Homo sapiens: one gene and its partner. The protein of the gene in region 1 purifies or fractionates together with the protein of each later gene. This does not show direct contact. Each region holds a gene or a part of one and is shown on either strand. Other genes may lie near its edges.

Region 1 (4,013 bases):
GGCCCATTTCTTTTCTTTTCTTTTCTTTTTTTCTTTTTTTTTTTTTTTGATACGGAATCTCGCTCTGTCGCCAGGCTGGAGTGCAGTGGCGTGATCTCGGCTCACTGCAACCTCCCCCTCCCGAGTTCAAGCGATTCTCCGGCCTCAGCCTCCCGAGTAGCTGGGATTACAGACGCCCGCCACTACGCCCAGCTAATTTCTTGTATTTTTAGTAGAGACGGGGTTTCACCATGTTGGCCAGGCTGGTCTCGAATTCCTAACCTTGTGATCCGCCCGCCTCGGCCTCCCAAAGTACTGGGATTACAGGCATGAACCACCGCGCCCGGCCAAAATTTCTAATAAGTTCTCAGGTGATTCTGACTGGCGCTGCTGGTGGGGGATCCCACTTTGAGAAACACCCTCTGCTGTGTGAGCAGCTGCCTCCCCGGTACATTCGGAATAATCATAGTAGGTTTAAAGTTTGCTGGGGCTGGGATTCACCTGATACCTGGCACTTGGAGCCCTTGACACAGTTCATGGCACACGGAATACGAGCTCTTGTTGGATGGAGCACAAATGAGAAGCAAACCTGGGGCAGGACCCCGGGGCCCATGGCCGCCCCGCCGCGTTTCCCCCTCCGGGGCAGGCCTCCGGGCTCCGAGCGCTCCAGGCTGGCGCGCAGCACATTCCGGTTCCATGCACCCGCCGCCCGCGGCTCTGCTAATGCCTGTCCTCTTTGGGGTGACTAGGACCCTCCAATCTTTTTCCGCGCTGAAAGCCTGGCCGCAAAGACCGCACCCCCGGGGCGGGCTGAGACGCAGAGAAGCCGGGGCGCCCCTCTGCCGGTCCGCCGGGAGTTCCCGGGCCCGCAGCAGGCTGAGGACACGGCGGGACCCGCTGCACCTGGCCAGGGAGGGGCGGGGCGGGCGCGTTAGTGCAGCTGGGGGAGGTCCCGCCCCGGTCCCACCCTCCCGGCCGTCCGGTGGGGAAACCCGGGAGCCACCCCGCGGCGCGGCTGCGGCTTTGCCTCGGCGCGACAGGTAAGCGGCAGAAGGAGCCCGCGACCCTCTCCCCGGGAGGGCCCCCCTGAGCTCCCCGACTGCTCGGACTTCCCTTCGGCGGATCTCGCTTCTGCCGAGTCCTCGCTCTCACCTCCTCCTCCGCCAGCCTTCGCCTCTTCCTCTTCCTCCTCACTACCCCCGACAGTAAAATGAAGGGGCTGGGCCAGGCTGGTCCCTCCTGCCTTCGCTCTCTGCTGGTCGCGGTGGCCTGTAGCTCCTCCCTCGGTAGGACCCCCCTCCACCTTGGCGCTTACGAGATGAATGAGGAGCCCAGACCTCTGGAACTTGGAGGGGTGAGAGGGGGACAAGCCAGAGCCAGGGCTCCACACCCTCTTCCCCTCACCCACCCATGCCCTGCATTCCTTCTGTGCCCCGTCTCCCCAGATCGGGCCACCCCATGTGCTCTGGTACGGCAACTCTTGCAGAGAGGTTTCCTCCTGCCCTGCCACGTTGCGCCTGAGCAGAAGGGGACAGCAAGGAGAAGCCTCGCTGGTGGAGGTCGGTCTGAGCCCTGCTTGGTTGAATTCCCTCCAGAGCCTGGGGGCTTTTGGGGGTGGGAAGGGATCTGCCTCCTGCTGTGGGGAAATGGAATCTGCTGGGTGTTCATGACTGTGACTGTCACCGACTTCCCTATTTCCTCAGTTGTTCAGATTCCCAGGCTGACAAAAAGGAGAAACAGCTTTTACTTGCATCCAGGGCCAATCATCGCAGACCCAGACGTCTGCAGAGGGTAGGATGGGGCTCTTCTGTGTATGGGGGTGGAGGGTGGTCAGTTTGCCCACAAAGCTTACAGCAGACCCCTTCTAGCAGCCGACAACCCATTGCAGCACTCTCAGAAAGGATGTTAACTCTGTGCTCTGAGCTCGCCCCCAGGCCCACACACACAATTTACAGGCACTGGGTGAGGTTCATAGTTCTGGACACACCAAAGAGCCTCGAGGACTTTTGCGCCTTCTACCAGAGATGTGTGTGCACCACACAGGCCCTATTCTCCGCTCCAGACAGATGAGCTGTCTCCCTTCCCATCAAAGGAAAGGTTAAGAAGGATGAGACAGGGAAATTCATGTGATGATGAAAACCAGGTCAGGTGAGGGGTTTGAAATATGCTTTGGTTCCGGCCACATGTGGTGGCTCATGCCTGTAATCCCAGCACTTTGGGAGGCTGAGGCTGGTGCATCACCTGAGATCAGGAGTTCGAGACCAGCCTGGCCAACATGGCAAAACCCCATCTCCACAAAAAATACAAAAAGTTAGCCGGGCATGGTGGCAGGCGCCTGTAATTCCAGCTACTTGGGAGGCTGAGGCAGGAGAATTGTTTGAACCTGGGAAGCAGAGGTTGCAGTGAGCTGAGATCGCACCATTGCATTCCAGCCTGGGCAATAAGAGCAAAACTCTGTCTCAAAAAAAAAAAAAAAAAAAAAAAGAAAGAAAGAAAGAAAGAAATATGCTTTGATTCCAATTGCCTAGCAGGAGCCAGTAGCATTGCAGGCATTTCCCTAGCTCCAGTTCCTTAATGGTGCCATGCACTTTAGGAACCCAGAGGTAATCAGAGAAAGTTGCTTCCAGGGGCACCAGGGCAGAGAACAGGACAAGACCCTCAAAAGAAAGAGGGAAGTGTGCAGGAGACTGGGCTGCTCAAGATGACCTCACCTCAGTAATGCTGCCCACAGTCCTACAGTGGGTGGAACAGCTGACTCCTACCTGTAGCAGCATGGAAGAACTCAGGGCAGAGAAGGGGAGGCCCTGATGTGTGTCAGGTGCCCTGTGAGGTCAGAAACATATTTGCCCAAGTTCAGCTGGAAGAAGTGGGGACAGGAAATATGAGCATGAACTTAGTCCATGCAACCATTGCCTCGAACAGACCTCAGGACCAGGAGGGGCAGCTAACCCTAGGGCTGAGGGCCTCTCAGTGCAGGGAGGCAGTGAGTATCATGAAGGCAGGCAGCTGACTCAGCCCTGTCACTAACTTCGATATATAATCTTAGCCAAAACACATAAACACTCCCTGGGTGGGGAGCAAATGAGAAGGTGTATATGAAGTGTTTTGGCAAAGCTCCAAGCACCAGTCAAATGCAAGACAATGTGATGTCATAGTTAAGAGAGTGGGCTTTGGAGATACATAGGCCTGAATGCAAATTCTGCCTCTGCCACATTTCTAGCTGTGTGACCTTGGTCAAGTTACTTGACCTCCCTGTGCTTCAGTTTCCTTCTGTGTAAAACAGAGAAGATAACTGTAACTTGATTTGATATGGTAAGCAGTAATATTTAAAATGGTGATGGTATTCTTCTTAACATTTTCTGGCTCCCACGGATGTGTTCCGACATCTCAGCCCTGGAAGGGATGCTGAAGACCAGGTTGGGTGTGTCCATGCCGTAGCTTGGGTGAACTCAGCTCTTTACACAGTCCTCTGCCCCTTTCTGGGAAAGCCCAAATGTTCATTCTCATTTGATAGGAACGAGAGTGAGGATTTGAATAAGCAGGAGGTTAAGTGCAGGGCAGTGCCTGTCTCTGTGTCGAGCTCAATGTTGTAATTGTGCTGTGTAAAAGGCCTGTGTGGTGAACAAGGGTGAGCTCACTCCAGGGAGGAGAAGGACTGTTAGAAGACTTTTGTGGCACCTGACAGCCCTGTGGGGTCAGCTTATTCTCTCGTACCCTGAACAACTTGGTCCTAAGGCCTAGGTAGAGATTTGAAGGAAGAAAGCAACCCAGTCCTCAACTCTGCACGTAATAGAGAATGAAGAACAGACTAGCAAAATAGCATTGCCATACATCTCAAGGCAGAGAGATGCGACAGGGATTGGAAGGCCAGGTAGATTGGTCAGGAAGAACATTCTGGAGACAGAAGTTTGGGGACCAAGACTCAAGGATTGGGAAGGAGAAGGAAATAGGATCTAGGTGGTCTACCGTCTAGGCCTGTTGGTTCTCCCTTCTCCATGATAGTTAGTGGGGAAATCCCACGTAAGGAAAGCACG
Region 2 (3,500 bases), about 44 Mb from region 1:
CTTATAACAACTCGTGATAAATATTATTATCCAAATATAGTAAGTGAGAAAACCAGGCTGCCAAAAGTTAAAATAACTTGCAAACCCAGGCTACTTCTTCAAAAAGCTCAATTACATTAATAACAAAAACAAAAGAATATATATGCATAGAAATCGAGGAGATAAGAATAAACAGTTGTCCCTAGTGTCTATGGGGGATTGATTCCAGGACACCCTGTGGATGCCAAAATCCACAAATGATCATTTGTGGATATGCAAATGTAGCATTTGCATATAATTTATGCACAACCTCCTGTATACTTTAAATCATCTCCAGGTTACTTATAATGCCTAATATGATGTCTGCATATGACTTCATTCATGTGGATTCAACATAATACTCGGCACACAGCAAATCCAAGTTTTGCTTTTTGGAACTTTGTGAACTTTTTTCTGATATAATTTCCATCTAATGTTGGTTTAATCCATGGATGCAGAACCCACAGATACTGAAGGTCAAATGTGTATCAAAATATTAATAGCAGTGGTTTCTACAAGTGGTGGGATAACAGGCTATTCTTATTTCTTTTGTTATTTTTTGAATTTTCTATAATGAACATGCTGAGCAGTTCCTCATTCACCAAGAGTAATACATAGTTTATTTCCACATTCCACATATGGAATTTTCCAACAAGGCATCTTTGTAAAATGTTAGAATCAATATTAAATGAAGCAATGAATACTCAGTGAAATGTGTTAAATAAAAGCTGAGTTTTAAAAATCAAAACAATCTTGTCTTCTGCTTATAATGAACACATTTTAACAGAGAAAGGGTATAAAGAAAAGTAACATTCTGTAACATAAGAGAAACTACCCAATTAATGCAGTTTGTAGTTTCTTAGAACACAGTCTCCTAATATTCTGATTTTTCTGGAGCAGAAAATAAACATTAGGAAGGACTTACTTTGAAGAAAATATTATCTGCCATTGACAGCTAGCAATTTATTTAGAGAAATAATATTTTAGAAGACTGTAACAGGCTAGGCACAGTGGCTGTCACATATAATCCCAGTGCTTTGGGAGGCCAAGGTTGGAGGATCACTTGAGGCCAGGAGTTTGACACCTTCTCTCTCAAAAACAAAAACATTAGCTGGGTGTGGTGGCATGCACCTATACTCCCAGCTACTCAGGAAGCTGAGGCAGAAGGATAGCTTGAGCCCAGGATTTTGAGGTTGCAGTGAGTTATGATCACGGCACTACACTTGGCCTAGGTGACAGAGCAAGACCTTGTGTCAAAAAAAAAAAACACCCCTCCGCCCCTGCCCCAAAAACCCCACAAAACTGTAACAAATGATTCAGTGGGTCAAAGTACTAAAAAGGACAGGTTGAAATTGCAATGTAATTCAGAGGTAAATCTAGTTTCAAATTCATTAGAAAGCTATAAAGGAGTAGCAGAAGATGCCATTTTTGGATCAGCTAAAGTGAAGAAAACTGATTATCATACCCAAAAAATAATGTTTGTTTCAAGTAAAATGTATATGTACATCCATTCATTCAACAAAAATCTATTGCAGAAATACTATGTGGTAGGCACTGTTCCAACATGGTATTTGGGGAAACATACAATAAATTAAATAATATAAAAAAAATGTTAAGCAGAGGTAGTTAAGTGCCATCAAGGAAAAAACCAGAGCAGGGGAAGAGTATGGAGTATGAGAGGGAACAGGGCTCTTATAGACTAGACCACCTGAAGAGCCACCAGATGGGCACTTGAATAAAGTGAAGGTGTGTGAGCCATGCCAAATCTGGGGAAACAGCTAGTGCAGAGACTGAGTTGGGAGTATGTTCACTGTTCAAGGAAAAGCAAGAAGGCCAATGTGGCCAAGTCAGAGTCAACAGGGCTGTGACTAGGACAGTGCATGCAGACTGTGATCACATAACGCCTCGCAGAGCATGGAAGGAGTTGGGGTTTTTACTCTCACTGTGATGGGAAGCCACTGGGTCATTCTGAGCAGAGACTTGATGTGTCTGATTTACATTTAAAAATATGCACTCTCATCACTTAGCATGTTGGGAACGCTAGTGCACTGCAAGAATGTTATCAAACCAGTTGGGAGGTGACTGTAGATGTCCAGGCAAGAGATAATTGTGCCTTGGACTAGGGTAACAGTCATAGAGGCAGTGATGAGATGTGGGATATATGGAGAAACGAAAGCAGGATGAACTTGCTAACAGACTGGACATTAGAGAATTAGACTGGGGGATGACACTGAAGTTTTGGGCTTGAGTAAACAAGAGTCATTTAAGTGCTTAGGAACATTTTGCTTGATAGGTTAATCTGCCTATGCACTGGGGATTTGAAGAATTGAAAAAACTCAAATATCAAATATGTTCAATTTATAAATGTGACTAAACTGCTTAAAGAGATGTATTAACTAAATTTGCAAATGGGTATTACTGTTTAGGACAATGTAATCCTTTCCATTAGAGTTTACCGAACATTCATCAAAGAACAAGAGAAAATGATTGTTCCTTATTTTTATGCAAAAAGTAATTCAATTTACTAATCTTTTTATCCTATTTATAAATTGAACCTCAAGAATGAAAAACAATTAGGTTTTTAAATTTGCAACTATAATAAATAGTATATTAATTTTAAATCCAAATTGCCCAACAATCCTTTCTAAATACAAAAGCCCCACAGAAACTAAAACACTCGAACTGACACAGTATTTAGTGAGACAGGAAAAATGTCTGTGACATATTAAGTGAGGGGAGGGAGAAGCAAGTCAGAAAATGTTGTATACATTATATGAGAAATGTGTAGGTATATGTTATTTATAATAATAAGCTTTCTTCTAAAGAAGGTGTGACCAATAAACTACAATCAGTTTTTCACACTGTGGTCTTTAAAAAACATTCCTCTGTGGAGTCCCAGCTACATGGGAGGCTGAGGCAGGGGGGATGCTTGAGCCCAGGAGTTCAAGGCTGTAGTGTGCTATGATTGCACCTGTGAATAGCTCCTGTACTCCATCCTCGGCAACAGAGCAAGACCCCACCTCTAAAACAAACACCCCCAAAACATTCTTTCTCTACCCAAAAGCAGACCCTCAAATAGTTGTTGAATCAGTGAATAAAATATTAACAGTATTGCTTCTGGGCCAAAGAATTGTTTCTACCTCATATTAATAATTCTCCAGATTTCCAAATTTTCTATAGCAATTGTATATTCTTATAATCAGAAAAAATCTTTTAATGGTGATTATAAGGATTGTTTTAATAACATGAAAAATTGCTTATAATATTGATGGAAAAAAGCAAGTAAAATGGAGTATGGTTATGAACACAACTACACAGAAAGGATTAAAAAGGGACGGGGTGAGGTGGCTTACACCTGTAATCCCAGCACTTTGGAAGGCTGAGGCAGGCGGATCACATGAGGCCAGGAGTTTGAGACCAGCCTGGCTAACATGGAGAAACCCCACCCCTATAAAAAAAAAAATACAAAAATTAGCTGGGTG

Evidence for each region. The genes of interacting proteins can lie anywhere in the genome.
Region 2: the proteins of GALNT6 (region 1) and NDUFA12 purify together in Homo sapiens (affinity purification with mass spectrometry; 2 studies listed by BioGRID and IntAct, with this or other methods). This does not show direct contact.

The regions. Positions count from the first base shown.
Region 1 is NC_000012.12:51,388,607-51,392,619, reverse strand, and holds the start of GALNT6 (polypeptide N-acetylgalactosaminyltransferase 6), read left to right. Parts: upstream 1-1,213; 5' UTR 1,214-1,333; intron 1,334-1,424; exon of another isoform or gene 1,425-1,538; intron 1,539-1,682; 5' UTR 1,683-1,770; intron 1,771-4,013. UniProt on the Homo sapiens protein: Catalyzes the initial reaction in O-linked oligosaccharide biosynthesis, the transfer of an N-acetyl-D-galactosamine residue to a serine or threonine residue on the protein receptor. May participate in synthesis of oncofetal fibronectin.
Region 2 is NC_000012.12:94,976,198-94,979,697, forward strand, and holds part of NDUFA12 (NADH dehydrogenase [ubiquinone] 1 alpha subcomplex subunit 12), read right to left. Parts: intron 1-3,500. UniProt on the Homo sapiens protein: Accessory subunit of the mitochondrial membrane respiratory chain NADH dehydrogenase (Complex I), that is believed not to be involved in catalysis. Complex I functions in the transfer of electrons from NADH to the respiratory chain.